2 separate regions of the Homo sapiens genome follow, and region 1 is reported to be linked to region 2. Evidence: microRNA targets listed by miRTarBase, many of them from high-throughput screens and not tested one by one. Region 2 holds a microRNA gene; the other region holds the end of a gene's coding sequence.
What was found. The annotated mature microRNA hsa-miR-6742-5p reads AGUGGGGUGGGACCCAGCUGUU and lies in region 2 at 2,785-2,806, opposite strand. An mRNA with a match to its seed (bases 2 to 7 or 8) in the 3' UTR can be bound and repressed. Matches are read on the target gene's strand: a 7mer-m8 pairs with bases 2 to 8, a 7mer-A1 pairs with bases 2 to 7 and ends in A, and an 8mer does both.

Region 1: the mRNA of CDH6 is a reported target of hsa-miR-6742-5p. Seed matches in the 3' UTR shown: 7mer-m8 at 3,234-3,240.

What each region holds. Positions count from the first base shown.
Region 1 is chr5:31,322,746-31,326,927 of GRCh38, forward strand. It overlaps CDH6 (cadherin 6), which reads left to right. Exons shown (of 12, transcript NM_004932.4): 12 at 73-4,182. The coding sequence ends at 563. Among named protein-coding and RNA genes, the nearest start is that of CDH6, 130 kb to the left of the region's middle.
Region 2 is chr1:228,394,299-228,398,298 of GRCh38, forward strand. It overlaps MIR6742 (microRNA 6742), which reads right to left and starts at 2,811; the gene lies at 2,750-2,811. TRIM11 (tripartite motif containing 11) reads right to left here. Exons shown (of 6, transcript NM_145214.3): 4 at 2,845-2,867; 5 at 2,649-2,749; 6 at 1-954. The coding sequence ends at 407. TRIM11-AS1 (TRIM11 antisense RNA 1) reads left to right here. Exons shown (of 3, transcript NR_199157.1): 1 at 1-150; 2 at 1,413-1,508; 3 at 2,445-2,669.

The DNA of each region.
Region 1 (4,182 bases), not on the chromosome of region 2:
TGTTTCTTCCTGACATTAATTGGGCAGCAAATTAACTTTTCCTTCCCTTTCTGTTTTGTTTTCTGCTTCCAGTGACAGTGGTGCTGTTTGCAGCTCTGAGGCGGCAGCGAAAAAAAGAGCCTTTGATCATTTCCAAAGAGGACATCAGAGATAACATTGTCAGTTACAACGACGAAGGTGGTGGAGAGGAGGACACCCAGGCTTTTGATATCGGCACCCTGAGGAATCCTGAAGCCATAGAGGACAACAAATTACGAAGGGACATTGTGCCCGAAGCCCTTTTCCTACCCCGACGGACTCCAACAGCTCGCGACAACACCGATGTCAGAGATTTCATTAACCAAAGGTTAAAGGAAAATGACACGGACCCCACTGCCCCGCCATACGACTCCTTGGCCACTTACGCCTATGAAGGCACTGGCTCCGTGGCGGATTCCCTGAGCTCGCTGGAGTCAGTGACCACGGATGCAGATCAAGACTATGATTACCTTAGTGACTGGGGACCTCGATTCAAAAAGCTTGCAGATATGTATGGAGGAGTGGACAGTGACAAAGACTCCTAATCTGTTGCCTTTTTCATTTTCCAATACGACACTGAAATATGTGAAGTGGCTATTTCTTTATATTTATCCACTACTCCGTGAAGGCTTCTCTGTTCTACCCGTTCCAAAAGCCAATGGCTGCAGTCCGTGTGGATCCAATGTTAGAGACTTTTTTCTAGTACACTTTTATGAGCTTCCAAGGGGCAAATTTTTATTTTTTAGTGCATCCAGTTAACCAAGTCAGCCCAACAGGCAGGTGCCGGAGGGGAGGACAGGGAACAGTATTTCCACTTGTTCTCAGGGCAGCGTGCCCGCTTCCGCTGTCCTGGTGTTTTACTACACTCCATGTCAGGTCAGCCAACTGCCCTAACTGTACATTTCACAGGCTAATGGGATAAAGGACTGTGCTTTAAAGATAAAAATATCATCATAGTAAAAGAAATGAGGGCATATCGGCTCACAAAGAGATAAACTACATAGGGGTGTTTATTTGTGTCACAAAGAATTTAAAATAACACTTGCCCATGCTATTTGTTCTTCAAGAACTTTCTCTGCCATCAACTACTATTCAAAACCTCAAATCCACCCATATGTTAAAATTCTCATTACTCTTAAGGAATAGAAGCAAATTAAACGGTAACATCCAAAAGCAACCACAAACCTAGTACGACTTCATTCCTTCCACTAACTCATAGTTTGTTATATCCTAGACTAGACATGCGAAAGTTTGCCTTTGTACCATATAAAGGGGGAGGGAAATAGCTAATAATGTTAACCAAGGAAATATATTTTACCATACATTTAAAGTTTTGGCCACCACATGTATCACGGGTCACTTGAAATTCTTTCAGCTATCAGTAGGCTAATGTCAAAATTGTTTAAAAATTCTTGAAAGAATTTTCCTGAGACAAATTTTAACTTCTTGTCTATAGTTGTCAGTATTATTCTACTATACTGTACATGAAAGTAGCAGTGTGAAGTACAATAATTCATATTCTTCATATCCTTCTTACACGACTAAGTTGAATTAGTAAAGTTAGATTAAATAAAACTTAAATCTCACTCTAGGAGTTCAGTGGAGAGGTTAGAGCCAGCCACACTTGAACCTAATACCCTGCCCTTGACATCTGGAAACCTCTACATATTTATATAACGTGATACATTTGGATAAACAACATTGAGATTATGATGAAAACCTACATATTCCATGTTTGGAAGACCCTTGGAAGAGGAAAATTGGATTCCCTTAAACAAAAGTGTTTAAGATTGTAATTAAAATGATAGTTGATTTTCAAAAGCATTAATTTTTTTTCATTGTTTTTAACTTTGCTTTCATGACCATCCTGCCATCCTTGACTTTGAACTAATGATAAAGTAATGATCTCAAACTATGACAGAAAAGTAATGTAAAATCCATCCAATCTATTATTTCTCTAATTATGCAATTAGCCTCATAGTTATTATCCAGAGGACCCAACTGAACTGAACTAATCCTTCTGGCAGATTCAAATCGTTTATTTCACACGCTGTTCTAATGGCACTTATCATTAGAATCTTACCTTGTGCAGTCATCAGAAATTCCAGCGTACTATAATGAAAACATCCTTGTTTTGAAAACCTAAAAGACAGGCTCTGTATATATATATACTTAAGAATATGCTGACTTCACTTATTAGTCTTAGGGATTTATTTTCAATTAATATTAATTTTCTACAAATAATTTTAGTGTCATTTCCATTTGGGGATATTGTCATATCAGCACATATTTTCTGTTTGGAAACACACTGTTGTTTAGTTAAGTTTTAAATAGGTGTATTACCCAAGAAGTAAAGATGGAAACGTTAAAAGAAGAGAAATGTAGTATTTTGGGTTACCTGATTAGAGTGAAAATTTTTTACAATCATATTATTCCTTGTGTCTTCTGAATGGTTTCCGATTTTATAATGGACTGCCCTATATAGTAACAAGTATTTCATGCTTGAGCTATTTCCTGCTTTCAGGGTTTCTTTTTTCTAGTTCTTCATACACACACATACACACACACACACACACACACACACACACACACGAATGCAAACAAAAGGCTATATGAGGTCTTCACTCTAATGAATTGATATGTATCATAGTCACAGGTAAGTGTTGAAAAAAGCTTAGTAAAGTTAGAAGCTACTTACTCATAGCAATAGAACAGCACCTTAATCACACGATTTACTGTAAAATTAAAGAGGTCTCTATCTGTATGTTTCATGTCACGTAACAAATTGAATCAAGGAAGATAGTCCTGTAAAAAGAAAGGTATCATCTGAAGTTGAGGATTGACACTAGCAGTTTCCAATGTTTAAAGGTAAGATCTGAGTTCTCCTAATAAGTAAAAGTAAGTAGTTCTATAGCAGAATATCTGAGATGTAATTGGCAAGGTATTTTATCCCTCCCTGCAGATGACACAGCATACCAAGAACAGGTTAATATGATTACTTATGGAAATAACTTTAATCTCTTATCATAAAAGCTGATGATGAAGTAAATTTATAGGAAATTGGATAATTTGAGACTGGGGCTAAATATTTAGTACCAGGGTACTGTAAGTATCAAGTTGGAGTGACGTTTTCCTATAATTCAGACTCTTTGACATCGTGGAACCAATAAGAGTCATAGTTCCATCATTCTCCAGCTTCGTCTCACTTCCTTCCCACCCCACCTGAGTATCAGGTCAAACATCATTGCATGCGCAGGTTTTTTTTTTAATTGCTAGGTCCCAGGCAACATGAAAGATTATTGGAGAAAAAAATAATTTTCAGCCCAGTTTTTTCATTGTCTGTTTCCTAATTTTAGATGTTGGTGATGGGAAAGATGGAAGGAGAGTGGGAAGAAGTAAAATTTTAATATTTGTTTCAATCACTTTGAAACTAAAATTCATTAAGCATAACCAGATTGCTTTTGTGGGTTGTTTCAAGGACATTGAGAGCTTTCTGATGATATGTTTTTGCCCTCTATTCAAAAGCAAGAGTTCCTTTAAACTACTAAGATATTCCCTAGAATAAGCTGAATTTAAAAAAACATTAAGCCATTGTTTAAAGCCCCTTCACTTCCTGGCCACTTACTTCTGAAAGGCCTAAAAAACATTTGTGCCCAAATAAGTAAATAAACCAAATGGGAAAGAAGCAAAGATTATTCCATAGAACCACAAGAGAGGGAATGTGGGCACAGTAAATAGATGTTTCTTTCAGAACTTTCCTGCCTTTACAGTTTGTGTCCATAAAGGGATGTTCAGCAATGAAATTACTCCCTTTTCAGATGGAACAAAACCTGCCCATTTAATTTTAACGCAGTATAAAAAACGTGTGGTTTAGTTTTTATTTTCAGCTCCCAAAGAGTTGTGCAGAAAATCTTAAAATTTTTTTTTTTTTTTTTTTTTTTTTTTTGAGACAGAATCTCGCTCTGTCGCCCAGGCTGGAATGCAGTGGCGCGATCTCTGCTCACTACAAGCTCCGCCTCCCGGGTTCACGCCATTCTCCTGCCTCAGCGCCCCCAGTAGCTGGGACTACAGGCACACACCACCACGCCCGGCTAATTTTTGTTGTATTTTTTAGTGGAGACAGGGTTTCACCATGTTAGCCAGGATGATCTCCATCTCCTGACC
Region 2 (4,000 bases):
GGTGGGGTACACAAGACTTTCAGGGGGCTGGCAAAGCTGCAGGAACTGTGCAGCTTAGGTGAACCCTGGATTCTGCAAGCCCCAGTGGAGTTTTCTCAGCTTCTGGAACCACAGGCCAGAGCTGCCGGGGCAATGGGGCTCCCAGCTTTGGTAAGGGCTGTTGGCATTAAGTGGCACCCGGTGGCTGGAGGGGTCTCCCAGGGAGGACGGAGCCTGCCCCACACTCTCCCACAGTTTCCTGGAGTGCTAGAATTGGGGTTCTCCCACGCAGGCTCAGAAAGGCACCAGGAGTTCCTCCTCTTGCTCAAAGGACACACTCCCTCCTCCCAGGTCCTCCAAGTGGCCAAAACACTCAGTGGCCTGGAGGGGCAGGAGAGGCAACAGGACTCCTCCAGGAGGGCCCGAGTCACTGGGGAGCCAGGGTGTCCCCGGACCCACCTTTCGGCCGGCAGATAGTCATCGGGGTCGGGCTGCTGGACAGGGGTGAGAAGAGGGGCCGCAGCGTCCCCGAGAAGGGGATCTCGGGAAAGATGAATAGCAGTGACCCATCGGTGGCACTGTAGAAAGAGAGATGTCCAGCCTCGTAGTCCAGAAAGATCCCCACGCGCCTGGGTGGGTCCCGGAGTGGAGCCAAGGCCCGTTCCGAGGAATTGTAATAGCTCCCCAGGAAGACCAGGATCCAGAAGCCGTTGCCCGCGGACAGCTCGCCCTTCTCCTTCCTGTTCACGTTCTCCCTGCACACCCCCAGGGCCCAGCTGGTGCGGTCCCCAACCTCCACCTCCCAGTAGTGGCGGCCTGAGGTGAAGCGCTCCTGGCCCAGCACGCAGGGGCCGGGGTCAAAGCGCTCTGGGCTGTCCGGCAGGGCCTGCCGTAGGTCCCCCCGCTGCACGCTCCGCCTGTCTTCAGACAGGATCAGCTCAGGGTTGGCGGTGTCCGGGTCCAAGGTCACGTCCCCTGCAGAGAGAGGCCCAAGGTCACCCAGGCACAGCCACAGGCAAGCTGGGGCCATCTGCCCATGTCCTGGGCATGTAGGTACAATCCTCCCAGTCGGACGGCCTGGCTCTCTGCCCTGGGCCTGTAGCCTCACAACCTCCTGGAGTAACTAACTGTCTCCAAGTGGACATCCTCTCCCCACTTAGCTACGTCCAGTTGCAACTTACAATGTCCTACAAATTGGTCCATGTTTTGCCTTCAGATATCAAGAGGGAATCTTGGTTGCTTTTTTTTTTTTTTTTAAAGAGGCAGGGTCTTGCTCTGTGGCCCCAGGCTGCAGTGCAGTGGTGCGATCATGGCTCACTGCAGCCTTGATCTCCTGGGCTCAAATGATCCTCCCGCCTCAGATCCTCCCAAGCTGCTGGGATTACAGGCGTGTGCCACCATGGCTGGCTCATTTTTTTGTTTTTTATTTGTAGAGATGGGAGTCTTGCTATGTTTCCCGGGTTGGTCTTGAACTGATGGCCTCAAGCAATCCTCCCGCCTGAGCCTCTCAAAGTGCTGGGATTACAGAGGTGAGCCAATGCATCCAGTCTGTTTTTCCTTTCAATCTCCAAATGAAGGATGTGAATTAGGGCAGCTGTCCCAACCCTGACCACTCCGATTTCAGATCTATCCACCTCTGGAGGCCTGCACACAGTTCCTACACAACAGGCTCCTGACCTGCTAGCAAGAGCTGAGGATAGTACTTCCTTTGGGTGACTGTGATACAAGACTCAGATTTGGGTTTTGTGCCCAGTTCCTGGCGCAGAGCTCACAGAACCCTGGGAATTTCCTGACTGATAGAAGCATCTTGTGCTATCATAAGATGCCCCTTTCCATCACACCTGAGTTGATGCCACTGCAGTGGCTGAGGTGGGGACCTGAGAGCCCAGCATAAGGCCAGCCACCAGAAAGACCAATCCTGTCAGTAGAGGGCGGGAACACTCAGCCCCAGCCTCTGACCTCAGGAAGGGGAAAGGGGTCTGAGGTTGAGCCCCATCACCAATGACCAATGATTTAATCAATCATAACCATGTAATGGAACCTCCACAAAGACACCTAAACAGCTCTTGGGGCTCAGGGAGTTTCCAGGTTGGTGAGCACACTGAGGTGCTGGGAAGGTGCACCCAGGGAGGGTGGGAAAGCTCTGAGCCCTTCCCCAGGCTTTGCCCATGTGTCTCTTCCATTTGGCTCTTCCTGAGTGGTATCCTTCACAATAAACCAATGACAGTAAGTAAAGTGCTCTTCTGAGTTCCATGGGCTGTGCTAGCGAATGCTCACATCTGCAGAGGCGCTGAGGGAACAGAAGTATGGGCAGCCCCTGGAAGTTGTGACTGGCATCTGAAGTGGGGGCAGTCTTATGGGACTGAGCCCTTAATCTGTGGGGTCTGTACTAACTCCTGTAGTGTCAGCACTGGCAATTCTGTTCAATGCTGAATGGAATCCTTGGATACCCAATTCGTTTCCAGAAGTTGAAGAATTGTTTGGTGTGAAAATACCCACACAACTGATGTCAGAAGTATGAGCAGAGGACGTTTTCCCAACAACCCACCACCATGACACTGTGAGTTTGGAGCTGGCAGTGGCAGGGCACAGAACACGTGGCTGGCTGCCCAGGTCCTTGGCAGGTCCCCTCCTGGAGTCATCTCCCCACCTGGGGCCTCCACACCTACCTCGAAACCTCCGCAGTGTCTCTACCAGTCCCGGGACCCTGCACACGGTCCTCAGCTCCATAGGCACAACTTCTGGGGGCTGCAGCTTCACATCCTGGACCCTAGAGGGGACAACCCAGGTGTTGTCGCCATGGCCAACAGCTGGGTCCCACCCCACTCCCTCCTGCCCCCCCTCCAGGAGAGGCTGGGTTCGTACCTGCGCAGGGCGTCCTTGATGTCCTATGTGGGGAGGAGAAACAGCACACTCGGTGTCAGTGACCATCGCTTGCTCCTGGAGTCCCCTCCCCGCCCCTGGAGCCTCGCCCCGTCCCCCTCTCCTACATTTGAGCGTCAGGCAGCAAAAACACACACAGGGGGCCATAAACCACCCGCAGCAAGGCTCAGACACAGGAATGCTGGACAGAGGCTCTGACATGTGTGCCAGGAGGCATCACCAATGGGGTGCAGCCCAGCCCTGCGGACCAAGGCCCACTTCTGCCTGACACTTGGATGTAGGGCATCTGGCTGTTGGCTCACTCACCCAGAGCCCCAAGTGGGCGCCTCTGGGTGCCAAGGACAGGACAGGCACACATCCCAGCCTTCAGCATAGGGGCACCTCCACCCCAGCTGGAGCCCAACCCTGTGGTTGCACTGCTTCCTCTCCCAGCTCCACCTGCCCTGCAGGCTCCCTGCTCAGCCCCACTCTTGGGCGTGCGTCCTTCCTGTGTCACTGCCTGATACGTGATAGCATCTGACTCCATGTTAGGGCCCGAATTGTGTCCATCCCGCCAAATCCGTATGTTGAAGCCAGAAACTTCAGGACTTCAGAACTTGACTATTAGAAAAAAGGGCTTTTAAAGAGGAAATCATAGTAAAATGAGGCCATTAGGGTGGGCTGCAATCCAAAATAACTTGAGTCTCATAAGAAGGGGCGACTAGGACACAGACACCCACAGAGGGGAGACCCTGTGAGGATACAGGGAAGAAAAGGCATCTACAGGCCCAAGAGATAGGCCTCAGGGGGAACCAGCTTTGACCTCAGTCTTCCAGTGTGCAGGACTGGGAGACAATCAGTCTCTGCTGGGGAAGCCTCCTGGCAGGTGGTACTAAATGTGGCAGCCCGAGCTGGCGTGATACACCCAGGTATTGGAACATCAGCTCTTAGGAGACACGGTCTTGTATCTCTTAGAGCAGTCTTCAGTGCACTGCAAGGATTTAACCCACACTGTCAAATAGACGATCCCACACCATGTTCATTCTAACACACGTGGTGCCAGCTACCAGGCCAGGATGCAGAGGTCAGTAAGACATAATCCCAGACAAGGGTTTCCCTACATGTAGGAGAAATGGCAAAGGAAGATTTCCACACATAC